4 linked regions of the Homo sapiens genome follow. The protein of the gene in region 3 purifies or fractionates together with the protein of the main gene of each other region. This does not show direct contact. Each region holds a gene or a part of one and is shown on either strand. Other genes may lie near its edges.

The links. Proteins that work in one complex are often made in the same cells at the same time.
Region 1: the proteins of FAM133A (region 3) and DNPEP purify together in Homo sapiens (affinity purification with mass spectrometry; one large-scale study listed by BioGRID and IntAct). This does not show direct contact.
Region 2: the proteins of FAM133A (region 3) and DBT purify together in Homo sapiens (affinity purification with mass spectrometry; one large-scale study listed by BioGRID and IntAct). This does not show direct contact.
Region 4: the proteins of FAM133A (region 3) and PPIL4 purify together in Homo sapiens (affinity purification with mass spectrometry; one large-scale study listed by BioGRID and IntAct). This does not show direct contact.

Annotation. Positions count from the first base shown.
Region 1 is NC_000002.12:219,374,728-219,377,912, forward strand, and holds part of DNPEP (aspartyl aminopeptidase), read right to left. Parts: intron 296-3,185; coding exon 128-295; intron 1-127.
Region 2 is NC_000001.11:100,215,335-100,218,834, forward strand, and holds part of DBT (lipoamide acyltransferase component of branched-chain alpha-keto acid dehydrogenase complex, mitochondrial isoform 1 precursor), read right to left. Parts: intron 3,414-3,500; coding exon 3,292-3,413; intron 866-3,291; coding exon 649-865; intron 1-648. UniProt on the Homo sapiens protein: The branched-chain alpha-keto dehydrogenase complex catalyzes the overall conversion of alpha-keto acids to acyl-CoA and CO(2).
Region 3 is NC_000023.11:93,705,206-93,708,705, reverse strand, and holds part of FAM133A (protein FAM133A), read right to left. Parts: intron 3,261-3,500; exon of another isoform or gene 432-3,260; intron 1-431.
Region 4 is NC_000006.12:149,532,544-149,536,043, forward strand, and holds part of PPIL4 (peptidyl-prolyl cis-trans isomerase-like 4), read right to left. Parts: intron 3,196-3,500; coding exon 3,053-3,195; intron 2,232-3,052; coding exon 2,135-2,231; intron 1,032-2,134; coding exon 915-1,031; intron 1-914. UniProt on the Homo sapiens protein: PPIases accelerate the folding of proteins. It catalyzes the cis-trans isomerization of proline imidic peptide bonds in oligopeptides.

The DNA.
Region 1 (3,185 bases), on a different chromosome or scaffold from region 3:
CAGCATGACAACCAGCCCCCATTACTCAGGCCAGTCACTTTGTGATGGCGATGTTGTCCCAGCAACCAATCCAGGCACTAGAGGGGAAGCAGCCCAGCTGCCAGAGAGGGTCTGGGGTGGGTGTTACCTTGAAGAGGGTGAGGGTCTGGAGGACTCCTGTGGTGCAGGCCATCTCCCGGATAGAGTGCATGGCCAGTTGGGGGCTGCCTAAATCCAGCACCCGCAGCCCCAGCCGAGAAGCCAAGATAGGTCCAATGGTGGTTCCACAGGGGGTGTCATTCCGGACCATGAGATCCTAGGGAGAGCAGGAGACCCATGAGCAACATGCAGTGTGTGCTTATCAGAGCCAAGGAGGACGCCATCTTAGAATTGCAGGGTGGGAAGGGGCCTGGGAGATGGTCCATTCGGAGCATAAAATCAAAGCCAATGCTAAATGGCAGACCCCAAAGGACAATATATTCTGAATTGGTCCCATTCTATCTGCATTGCCACCACCCTAGTTCCAATCCATTCTCCACACAGCAGGAAGGGGGATTTTTAAAAGTATCCATCCTTGTCACCCTCTTGCTTAATATCCACACTCACAGAAAAAAATCACTCAGTGGTATCAGTGTCTTTAAAAATATTGCTACTGACATTTTGAAATGATTTTCTTTATATTATGGTAAAAAAATAAGAAAATGAAAATATGATGCTAGATATCAAGGTTTTCAGTGTAAGAGAAAACAGAATTACAAAATCAAATAGGTAGTAACTATTTAACTAAATAAGAATAATTTTATGAATAAGAATTACAGTATTAACTCATGATTTTTATTTAAAAATTTTTATTTTATTTTATTTATTTATTTTGAGATGGAGTCTCCCTGCGATGCCCAGGCTGGAGTGCAGTGGCGCAATCTCAGCTCGCTGCAACCTCTGCCTCCTGGGTTCAAGCGATTCTCCTGTCTCAGCCTCCCAAGTAGCTGGGATTACAGGCACGCACCACCACGTTCAGCTAATTATTGTATTTTCAGTAGAGACGAGATTTTGCCATATTGGCCAGGCTGTTCTCGAACTTCTGACTTCAAGTGATCCACTACCTCTCAAAGTGCTGGGATTACAGGCCTGAGCTACCACACCTGGCTTCATGATTTTTAAAATATGTACTTTTTTCTTGCTATGTCCATGGAAATGGACCCAAAGCACCGTCCCCTCCCCCAAGAACAATGAACACTTGCAGTGCCAGGCTATGGTCTCTAATACCACTGCTTGCCAAAAACTACCAAGTCTGGGGGGCGAAATGAACAAGACATGTCTACAATTTTTGTTGTGCCAAAAAGCAAGGAGACTTCCAAGAGTCAAAGGGCACAGGAGTTATGCTGAAGGGGCTCCCACTGGTCAAAGCCATGGCAATTCACAAATCAAATATAATAATTATAGAGGACACTGAATAAATGAAATTCCATGATTCTAAGATAGTCAGAAAGGGAAAAGCAGGCCAGGTGTGCTGGCTCACGCCTGTAATCCCAGCACTTTGGGAGGCCAAGGTGTGCAGATCACATGATTCCAGGAGTTCAAGACCAGCCTGGCCAACATGGTGAAACCCTGTATCTATTAAAAATACAAGAAACAGCCGGGCATGGTGGTGCATGCCTGTAATCCCAGCTACTCAGGTGGCTGAGGTATGAGACTCTCTTGCACCTGTGGGGAGGAGGTTGCAGTGAGCTGAGATTGCGACACTACACTCCAGCCTGGGCAACAGAGCGAGACCCTGTCTAAAAAAAAAAAAAGAAAAAGAAAAAAAAAGGAAAAGGAAAAATCTTTCTTTGTCACTATTTGAGACGACATTTCACCTTGAAAAGTGGATAACAGAAAGAATTAGCATTTATCCTGCTTTCCAATCAATAGGAATGATATTCCATGATAACCAAAGAACCCTAGTTGATTGGAGGGAAGAAGTTCCACTTCACAGAAGAATGGAAGACTGAAAGAATTCAGGGGAAGCGGGCATTTTTCGGTAAATTCTAATGAAATTACTGATTTAGACAAGGATTATTGTAAGTGTTAAAACCATTAGGTATCTGGTTAATAGGGAACTCATCACTTGTATGGGTCACTGTCAGGTCAATAGGGGAAAAGCACTATATAATGAAAGGATAAGAGGCCATTCCTGGTCCAGTGGTCAATCTTTGCAAGGCTAAGGGTGGCCCACCCAGATATCATGTGTGTGATGCCATATGAATACACCAGCCATGTCTTCTAGCCCAAAATGTTTAACTTGAGGCTAGGCACGGTGGCTCACACCTGTAATCCCAGCACTTTGGGAGGCTGAGGTGGGCGGACCACTTGAGGTCAGGAGTTCAAGACCAGTCTGGCCAATATGGTGAAACCCTGTCTCTACTAAAAATACAAAAATTAGCTGGGCATCGTGGTGCACACTTGTAATCCCAGCTACTTTGGAGGCTGAGACAGAAGGATCACTTGAACCAGGGAGGCGGAGGTTGCAATGAGCCGAGATCACGCCATTAGACTCCAGCCTGGGCGACAGAGTGAAACTCTCACTCTGTCAAAAAAAAAAAAAAAAAAAAAAAAAAAAGTTTAACTTGAATCCATCAAGTCTTTAGAAATTCCAGTTGATAGGAAATACGGGGCTTACAGACAAGCTAAATGACACCATGGGGCAGCAAGGAGACATATCCAGAAGTTTCTTGAATAAGCCAATGCTATTTAAAAAGGGGTGGGGGGAACTGTGCTACACTGGAAGACATTTAAGCAACATATCAGCCAAATATAACGCATTGTCCTGAGTTGGATACTAGGGTGGGCCAAATACCTGTAAAAAAAATATTTTGAGGATAACTGGGGAAAACGGAAAGTGATCTGTGCATTAGATGAGGTACAAGTTTACTGAAACAACAATTTCCTGAAATGGGGTTGGGAATGGTGGCTCATGCCTGTAATCCTAGCACTTTGGGAGGCCAAGGTGGGAGGACTGCTTGAAGCCAGGAGTTCAAGACCAGCCTGGGCAACATAGCAAGAACCCCATTTTTACTAAAAATAGAAAATTAGCCAGCATGGTGGCATGCATCTGTAGTCCCAGCTACTTGGGAGACTGAGGCAGGAAGATCTTCTGAGCTCAGGAGTTTGAGGGTGCAGTGAGCTATGATCATGCCACTGCACTCCAGCCTGGGAGACAAAGCAAG
Region 2 (3,500 bases), on a different chromosome or scaffold from region 3:
CAAATCAGAACTAGTTATTTTGAAAGCTAACTACAAATAGTGAATGTTTAAAATGTCCTGTGTGTCTTCAAACAGAGCAATTATCAATATACAAGTTTATATTTCAAGAAACCTGCTAACGTATTACTCTTCAGAAGATAATGATACACATAAATTGTAAGTGTTTCCTGGAAAAGCTATGCTATTTCACCATTTAAAAATTATGGCCAGGCGCAGTGGCTCACGCCTGTAATCCCTGCACTGTGGGAGGCTGAGGAGGGTGGATCACCTGAGGTCAGGAGTTCGAGACCAGCCTGGCCAACATGATGAAACCCTGTCTCTACTAAAAATACAAAAAATTAGCTGAGCATGGTGGCGTGCACCTGTAATCCCAGATACTCAGGAGGCTGAGGCAGGAGAATTGCTTGAACCTGGGAGGCGGAGGCTGCAGTGAGCCAAGATCGTGCCACTGCACTACAGTCTGGACAACAAGAACAAAACTCCATCTCAAAAAAAAAGAAAAGAAAAGAAAAATTATATGCTGACTGAAGTTGAACTTTCCCTTCAGTAAGACTTGAAAACACCATATTATATACATTTATCTACTGAGGTAGCTTCCCCCAAAATAAATGAACTATTGCCTTATAGTATTGTTATTATTATCATTACCTTTTATGGGTTCTGTTTTGTCTTTGCCTGTGAATACCGGAGGTTTTGATACTAGTATAGGAACAGTCATGTCTTTTGGCTTTGGTGGAGGTGGCATAATTTCAACTTTGGGTGAAGGAGGCAATATAGCTCCTGTCTGCTTTTCCAAATAGTTGAGGATATCTTCTTTAAGTATTCTGCCATCTTTTCCTGAGCCAACAACTTCACTCAGCTTAATCTAAAAAATGATATATTTTAATGCCAAAAATACAACTATTTAAAAACATCATTAAAGTTTCAAAATGGAATTTGATCAACTGACAGTAAAATATATCTGTCCAATAAATTAGTAAAAGGAAATAACCTTTTCATTTTCTACTTAAGTAATCATTACTTTTGTATATACTGTTCACATATGCATGTGGTAACCATCAGGTATCTATATTATATATAATCTAGAGCTATTTATGAAAACTTACTTTTTAAAAAAATTTTTTGTAGAGACAGGGTCTCACTCTGTTGCCCTGGCTGGTCTTGAACTCCTAGCCTCAAGCTATCCTCTCACCTCAGCCTCCCAAAAGTGCTGGAATTACAGGCGTGAGCCACTATGCCCAGCTGAAAACTTACATTTTTATACTCAAGTATTTTAAAATCTCTTGCATAATTCTTACTCGACCTTTTCTATTCTTGGGGACTACATAAGAAGAGGGAGAGCTGAGAATTTAAGAGAAACTAAATGCTATACCAAATTTAGACCAATGTTTCTGACACTGGCTACCAGTTAAAAACGTAACAACTTAAATAATCATAATACAAAAGCTCTCTCAAATTAGTTATTTTTCTGGTAGTTGCTTTGGAAAGATCAGTACAAAACATTTAATTCTATTTAAATAAAAATAAACATAAAAGCTTGGAATGATCTCCTCATATATAGTATGTATTAATTTCTTAGGGATAGGCCCCATTTCATTTGTATTAGTGCATCTCTAAGGATGACTAAAATAATAAAGGACTTTACTAAGGCAAACACTAAGTTTGTAACAAATGGACTATGAAAATTTAAACAAATAATTTTTAGGCAGTTACAAACAACTGTAAATGCCACTGGTTCTTAATTTTAAACAAACTCAATTCATAAATATGCAAATTCAAAGAAAAAAGATGATTTCTGATAACTAAATCCAATATTTAATTTTTAGTAATCATACAAGCACTCTACCCAAGTATTCTATACCCATCTTTAGGGAGTGTTTTAGGAAAGCCAAATCATACATTTCTTCTATATATTTCTTTCTATATTATTAAGAAAAAAATTATTAAAATGCTTTATAGATTTCAAAGCAAAATGTTAAATCATTATTTCATCTGATGCCCTTAATAACCTAATGTTCCACGTTACTATATCTATTTTCTGTTATGCTAAATGGTCTTCATACTTAAACACATTTAAGGGTTACATAACATTTTATCAAGGATACATAACATAATTTGAATGTGTATGCATCTTCTAATTTTTGGCTATATAAAATACAAGGAAGAATGATTCCTAGATTATTTTCTTGGGATAGTTCCCCAGTGGCAGGATAACTGGCTGAAAGAATATGAACATTTTAATGACTCTATTACATATTTCACAAAATATAAACTTTTATTTTTTTCCCACAGCAACCTTACTTTTCTCAAAAAGAGACAAACAAAAAGTCTCATTGTGGGGCACAGTGGAAAGTATTCAGGTTTCAGAACCAGACAGATTTGTGTTCAAATCCCTAGTTCAGCTTACTTGGTTTTAGATAAGTTAATCAACCTGCCTGCAGGGTCCTTGTGAGGATTACAGATGTGTCTATAGTGTCTGGCACATATGTGCTCAAATAATGGAGGCAATGATTGTTGAGGTTTATATAACATCTAACAGCACAGGTTTTGGAGTGATATAGACTCACTTTTGAATTCTGGCTCTTGCTATGTTAGCTGTGTGACTTTAGACTAGTTACTTAAACCCTCCAAGTCTTAAAATAGCTCCTTATCTTACAGGGTTAAATGAGAATACGTAAATACCTATCCCAGTGCCAGGGAGCCACCCTGCCTGGCATTCCACCTTCCATTCAGTCAATGACTGGCAGAGGAAATACAAAAGGCCGGCCTCCTTGCCTCAAAGCAGTAATTCTGTGGTTCTCCCTTGCACCCTCAGATCAGGCCAGAGTCTTTCTTTTTTTACTTAGGACCATGGCAAGCTTTGGGACAGGCCAGATGCTTGATACCATAACCATGTCTGGCCAATTTCCCTTCTCTTCTCTTTTTTATCTTGCTTCCTTCAGTCCCTTTACAGGTTTTCCCTCCTTCAAATTCCTATCTCATGCTGTGCCTCTAGAGCACCTGACATAAGACCTGGTATTTACAAGTGCTCAGTAAATGGTAGCTCTTACTGTTATTAGGCTCTAAGAAAGAATAATAAAATCATACTGCTCAATTGATAGTAAGTAATAAGTTTACAACTTCTCATTTCTCCCATGTATTTTTATGCAACTATTGCTTTTCAGTAGCAAATATCTTCATGTTTCCTTAATTTCATTGAGCTATTTCATCATGGGATAGTTGGCTAATTTTTCAGAGATACAAATGTACACTTCCTATACAATCTCAGACTTAAATATTAAGAGAACTTACATTGTTTTCCATTGCCAGACGGCGAACTGCAGGAGTTGCCAGTGTTTTTCGGCCCTTTATCTCTTGGTGTGTATGTTCATCATGAGACACTGCAGGAGTTTCAACAACATCTTCTTCTGAATCTGGTAACAAGGTAAAACTTAACTTCAGTTGAAAAAAAATTTTTTTTTTTTACTAAGATGTAAAGTAAGGCCACTAAGATGTGGCCT
Region 3 (3,500 bases):
TCTGTCAAGGACTGCTTAGTGTTTGCAATGGATTATCTCATTCAATCTCAAGGCCAGACCTATGAAGTTGATCCTATCATTGTCTCTATTTCACAGATAGATAAACTGAGGCTTAGAGAATTAGAGTAAAACTCAAAATTTGAACATGAAGTAACATGGCTAATAAATGGCATATCCAGGATTTAAACAAAGGCAGCCTGATTCCAAGCTGCACAAATAAGGCAACACCAAATTGTCTCCTTACATCAACCTCTTAATAGGTAGCATTTTTCCAACCTTACTCCCTTTTATTCTAGTCCCACACTGTAAACAGAGGGATCTTAAAAAACTCCAGTGGTTTTATATTTTAATGAAAAACAAATCCAATCTCCTATAAGGTCCTATATGATCTGCCCTACTTCTGTCTCTTACTTTTGTTTTGTTTCACTCACCTTTTTTCTCAATTCTTTTCATTTGGTTCCTGGAACATGCCGAATTATAGGCTTAGCCAGCATGGCCAATTCCACCTCATCCTTCAGGTTTCAGCTTAAATGTCAATTCCTCAGAAAGTCAACCATTAGGTTAAACTATGTAAAACTATTTTATGGGACACAAACAGTTTAAAGATCAACAACTTTTTATGGCTCAACCTTATACTAAAGTGGTTTGCCTCTCTGTCTACCCCTCATCCTCATTTTTCTGTATGATAGTTCATCGTTTATTTTATTTGTAGCATTTATGAAATTGGTAATTATTTTATTTGTGATTATTGCGTTATACATGTGTATCCACTGCTAAATGTAAGACCAAGAAGGGTAAAGGTCATGTGTGGCCTATCTTATTCACCACGGTGTTCCCATTACCTGACATAGAATCTGATCCATATTAAGCACTCAATAAATATTTTCTCAATAATAAACAAATAAATAAATGCATGGATGGATGGATGGGTAACTCTGAGAGAAAGGAGGATTCAGAGGGAGTGTCCTGGAGATGGTGATGTCTGTATAGGGTCTTAAGGAATGAACAGGCATTTACCCAGAAAATGAGGAAATTAAGGACAATCTTGGCAGAGGAAACATGAGAAAAGAGCAGCAGGTATTTAGAGTTGATGGAACCTAAAGATCAAGAGGGCAGGGGGAAGGAGGTAAGTTTGCAGAGATAAAAAGAAGCCTAAATATGGAGGCCCTCTTAGGTCATTTGAAAATCTTGAATTTTGTCCTATAGTTGATACAAGAGCCAATAAAGTCTTTTATATAGAAGAGAAAGACGATCAGACATATAATAGATTTTTCTATCAATCTCCATCTTAAATCTGATCCTTTAAGTCAACCTAACATACCTACCCATCATAAGCTCAATGCTATAGACATTTCAGTGACTCTTGGTGATAGTTTCCAACATCTTATTTTCTGTGTTCTTGATCTTATTCTCCTTCCTCTTTATTTATAGGCAGCCCTTTTAGGTCTTTCTGTAATTTTCATTCTTACTCTTACCCTAACCACGTCTCAAATATCATTGTGTCTCTGATTTGACCATTCAAAACTCTTAAATACTTCAGTTCATATTCAACTTGCAGCTTCTTTCTGTTACTTGACACTTACAATAGAATAATCCATTCTAATTTCAGTCCCTTGAGACCTAGTCCTGACATCAGCTAGAAAGATAGGCGAAGGCCAGTTAACAAAGGCTTTGGGTGGTATGCTAAGGTGGTTGGAATCTCTCCTGTGGGATTTACAGTGAAGCTAACGGGGAGACACTATTTTAAGCAGAAAAATGATATGGTCATATTTGAGTGTTTAAGGACAATTATTTGCCCAGTGACAGACGGATTGAAGTCAGGTTAAGACAGAAGGCAATGGGACCACTTAAAAATTCATGTAGACAAGAAATGAAAGAGTCTGAACTCAAACAGCAACACTGTGAATGAAAAGAATGAGAAATATATGAGACATGTTGAGAAGATTCTATTGAAATTAGTGACAAATTGGATACAAAGGATGAAAAAGAGAAAGAAATCTGGGGTAAGGCTCTGGCTCGACACATTAGACCAAAGGCAATGACAATGACTAGGTAATAGAGAAAATGGCACAGACTTCGAGAAAAGGTTCTAGTTTCCATTTTGGACTCCTGAAGTTTGAAGTGCCTATGAGATTTATGGACAATTATCCATGTAAGAAAGAGGATGTATGGGATTTGGCACTTTGGAAAGTGATCTGAGTTAGAAATACTGAACTGGCAGTCGCTGAGTGATAGCTAGGGTCATGAGAGAAAACTAAATTATTTTGCAGGGAAATTTCAAGTGGAAAAAAGTTTGAGACTGGATCCAACTGAACACCAACATGCAAGGGGTTGGCAGTGAATGAAAAACCTACAAAGTATGCATTAAGAAATTAGCCAGAGTAGTAAGAGCTGGACCAGTATCAGAAAAGAAAGAGTCAAGAAACACAGGGTGAATAAAGTTTCAAGGTGAGCATAAGAATCCTTATGACTCTGTAATGTTTAAATTTTCTACAAAAAACAAGTATTATCCTTACCTTTGAAAAATTCATAAAAATAGAAAAGATTTGTTACAGACAACAGTATTAAATGCAGAAGATCAGTCAAGTTCAGATCTGAAAATGTCCATTATACTTAGCTATCAAGAAGTCATTAGTAACCTTTGCTAATGCAATCTCAGCTAAGTGGTGAAGGCACAAGCCAGGTGACAGTGGGTTAAAAGACTGAATTGAAGGTGAGAATGTAGAGACCTAGAGTACATAGTCACAGTCAATACGGAAAGTAAAGAGATAAGAAGGCAACCATGAAAGATGCAGAGTTAAAATTCTTTTGTGTTTTTTTTTACATGAAAGAAACTTGAGCATATTCATAGGGCATCTAGAAGGATAAAGTACAAAGAAAACATGTTTTAAAAACCTAGGTAAGAGAAGAAATAACTAATGTGGCAATATCACAGAGAAAACAGAAAGGAATGAAATTAAATTCAGAGATAGAAAGAATTTCTTCCCCCAAGAGCAGAGGCAAAGAATAAAGACAGGGAATGGATGCAGGATTTTTTGTAGGGTGGTAGGAGGTAAAAGGGAGAAAGATGAAGTATTTCTCACATAATAGCCTTCATTTTCATTCAGTGGTAAGTGCCAAGGTTGTCTGCTAAGATTAAGACAGGAGTTTTGAGACCAGTAATTAAAATTTGGAGTAACAACAGAGAATGGGAGAGGGTGTTGTCACCATGTAAGTGTTGCTGGAGTTCTTCTGAACTGAAGAATCTGTATGATCCTTTCCTAGAAGATAAATCAAATTGAGAAAAGAGAAAAAGTAACACCAACAAAGTCTCTTGCTCAAATACTCTGTTTTAAAAGCACTGTGGCTTATCTTCTCTGTTTCTATTATAGAACAAAGAGTAACTTGATTTTCTGTACATCTACTTATTTTCATGAAATATGCTAAAATCCTGTAAAGGTTAGATATAAATTGTGACAATCATGCTAGTAATCTGGATATTATAATAATATTTGTTCATT
Region 4 (3,500 bases), on a different chromosome or scaffold from region 3:
CAGTAAAGCTTTCTTGAACTATACAGCCTTTACTATTTGTTCATTCAGACAGTTGATGGTAATATAAACTTAAGCCTGGCCAACATAGGGAGATCCTGTCTCTACAAAAAAAATTTTAAAATTAGCAGGGCATTGTGGTGTGTGACTGTGGTCTCAGCAACTCAGGAGGCTGAGGCAAGGGCATTGCTTAAGCTGAGGAGTTGGAAGCTGCAGCAAGCTATGATCATACACCACTGTACTCCAGCCTGAACAACAGAGTGAGACCCTGTCTCTATAAAATAATAAATAAATAAACTTTAAAACAGACTACAAATCTGAAAGTTCTATTATATAAAATAGTAACTTTATTATCCATTCATTCCAATATTTATTATCTATGATATGACAGGTATGCCTATTCTACAAAAATAAGAAATGGAAAATAATACCAAGTAGGTCAATTAATCATCTACTGAATTATTATTCCCCAAATGACTTCAGGTTGTTAGTAATACAGAGAAGCAGTATATTTTAGAGTGCTCAGTTTCCACCCATTATTTTGCCCTACAACTACCATTCTGTTTAATCTTAACACTTGAGTGGTACAGTGAAGAACTATTCTTTAATATACATAAAATTCAGCCTGCTAAACACTCTTTAAGAATGAGATGAATATTAAACAACTGAAATTCAATTAATAAGTTAGAGATCCACTTCCCACTGTTTAAAAAGGCACTTAGCACTATATTGACAGTAGAGTCAAATTTATTTTCACAGTAGAGCCAATTTATTACTATGCCATACCAAATTTAAATCAGAAAAAAATCATAACTCAATTTTTAACATTTTAAGACTACTGAAGAGCCAGAAATAAACACTCAGTAAGTATTATTAGATATATTACAGAACAATTTGAACAAAGATAATTATCTTACCATCTCCAAAAGTATAGCCTGAGTTTTAGCCTCTTTTTCTGCCTTTATTTCTTCTACTTCCTCAGCTGATCTTCCTTTGAAATCATCAATTTCTTCATCTGCTCCTATTCGACCACTCTGTTAAGACAGAAGTTACTCATGTATATATTTAAAGAATAAAAAAATCTGAGAAACATAGAAGACATACTTTATTCTTAGTTATATCAAACATGCTAAAACAGTAACTGATCAAGGTTGCAGTGAGCTACAATCACACCACTGCACTCCAGCTGGGTGACACAGTGAGATCTTGTCTCTAAAAAAAAATTTTTAATAATTAATTGGACAGCAACTGAGACAAACTTATAAACCTCCAAGAATTGATTTATATTAATTCTAAAATATTAGCCAAAGTGGGCTTCTGTTAAAATCAAAATAGGCCAGGCATGGTGGCTCGTGCCTGTAATCCCAGCACTTTGGGAGAACACGCAGGTGGATCACTTGAGGTCAGGAGTTCGAGACCAGCCTGGCCAACACAGTGAAACCCTGTCTCTACTAAAAATACAAAAATTAGCTGGGCGTGGTGGCATGCACCTACAATCCCAGCAACTCAAGAGGCTGAGGCACGAGAATTGCTTGAATGAGGAAGGCAGAGGCCACAATGAGCCGAGATCCCACCACGCACTCCAGCCTAGGCAACAAAGTGAGACTCCATCTCAAAAAAATAAATAAATATTTATATGGACACTATTTATTATCCAATTCTAACTGCTGAATGAAGAGAAATGATCTGACAATTAAGCACCAATCCCAACCATAAAGACAAATTCAGCTTTCAGGAAGCCACATAAACCTTAAAATATGTGGGGGAACAGTCTGCGCTGTTTCACAGAAATTTCTGGGTTCTAGCCTGGCTCCAGAGTGTCCCCAGTTGAAAAGTTACCTCACAAGATAACAGTTTAATTTGATGACAAGAAAAACACTTTCCCAAGGTGTTCATGTAAGCTTCTAGAGCTGAGGTTGTCTCAGTAGAAAAGAAACTGAAGAAAGGAAATTAGAGAAATGAGAAGACAGCTAGAAAAATGAGTACCTCTGTGGAAAAGAAAAAGAACTCCAAACTTGTTGAATATAATTAAGCAAGATAATAATTCGGAAAAAATTAACTTTAACAGATGAAAAAGATAAATCCATACAAATCATTAATATGAATGTACATTTAATCATAAGAGGGCTTTACTTACATCTAATTGTTCCCTTGTAGGTTCTGGTGATCGATCAGGGATTAATAAATCAGGAGGGTCATCAAATGGATCATCTAAAATCACCGTATGATTTATCCTTACAAAATAAATCCAAATCAAATGTTATACATTGAAGTTATTTCAGAATCCTATTTTATTTTAATAGATTACAAAAAATTACTTGATTATCTCTAAGGCCAAAAAAAACCCATATTGCATATGGATATTACTAACCTAGATATACTTTCACAATGAGTGTTACTGTTTTGCATTGAGTGATACCATATTTATCACCCTGCATTACTTTAAGATGTAAACTAATATAACTGTCTAAATCTTAGTACTTTTGCCCTACTTCTCAATTAAAAAACTAAATTAAAGCATTAACAATTCCTCCAGCTGGGTGCAGTGGCTCATTCCTGTAATCCCAACACTTCAGGAGGCTGAGGTGGGTGGATCATGAGGTCAGGAGATCGTGACCATCCTGGCTAACATGGTGAAACCCCGTCTCTACTAAAAATACAAAAAATTAGCCAGGTGTGGTGGCGGGCGCCTGTAGTCCTAGCTACTTGGGAGGCTAAGGCAGGAGAATGGTGTGAACCCGGGAGACAGAGCTTGCAGTGAGCCAAGATCGCGCCACTGCACTCCAGCCTGGGCAACAGCATGAGACTCCGTCTCAAAAAATAAATAAATAAATAATTCCTCCAAACATAATTATAAATAATTAGTACAAGTATAAAAATACAAAAAGTCCTTTTTATTATAAAGATTCTTACAGTCTTATATTAATTCACCTTTTGGGATTAGAATTATCCAGAAACCAGTCCTATGCATACCGTTCCTATCCATACCACTACGTGTTAAACATCTCAATATTAAAACATTCTAGTACATTCAGATAGCAAATTGTAACCATACCTGATATCCTGATATGGTACAAAGTCCTTGTCAACAAAGGTCTCATTAATTTTCTTAATTATGTCCATGCCTTCTGTCACCTCACCAAACACCGTATGGACACCATCAAGATAATCTAGATTTTCTCCTGTGGTGATAAGAAACTATAAAGAAGGACACATAATAAATACCATAAAAATAATACATAACTCAAACTGAAATCAGTTACAGACTGACAAAAAAATACATGAAAGTTAAGAGTCCACATTTACTGCACCAATTCTTAGACACTTGTTACCAAAACTAAGTAAAAAGTACAAAGCTTATACTGGCATACCTCATTTTATTGCACTTTGCAGATACTGCATTTTTTACAATTAAGGATTTCTGGCAACCGTGTATTGAGTAAGTCTATTGGTGCCATTTTCCCAACAGCATAGGCTCACTTCATGTTTCTGGCTCACATTTT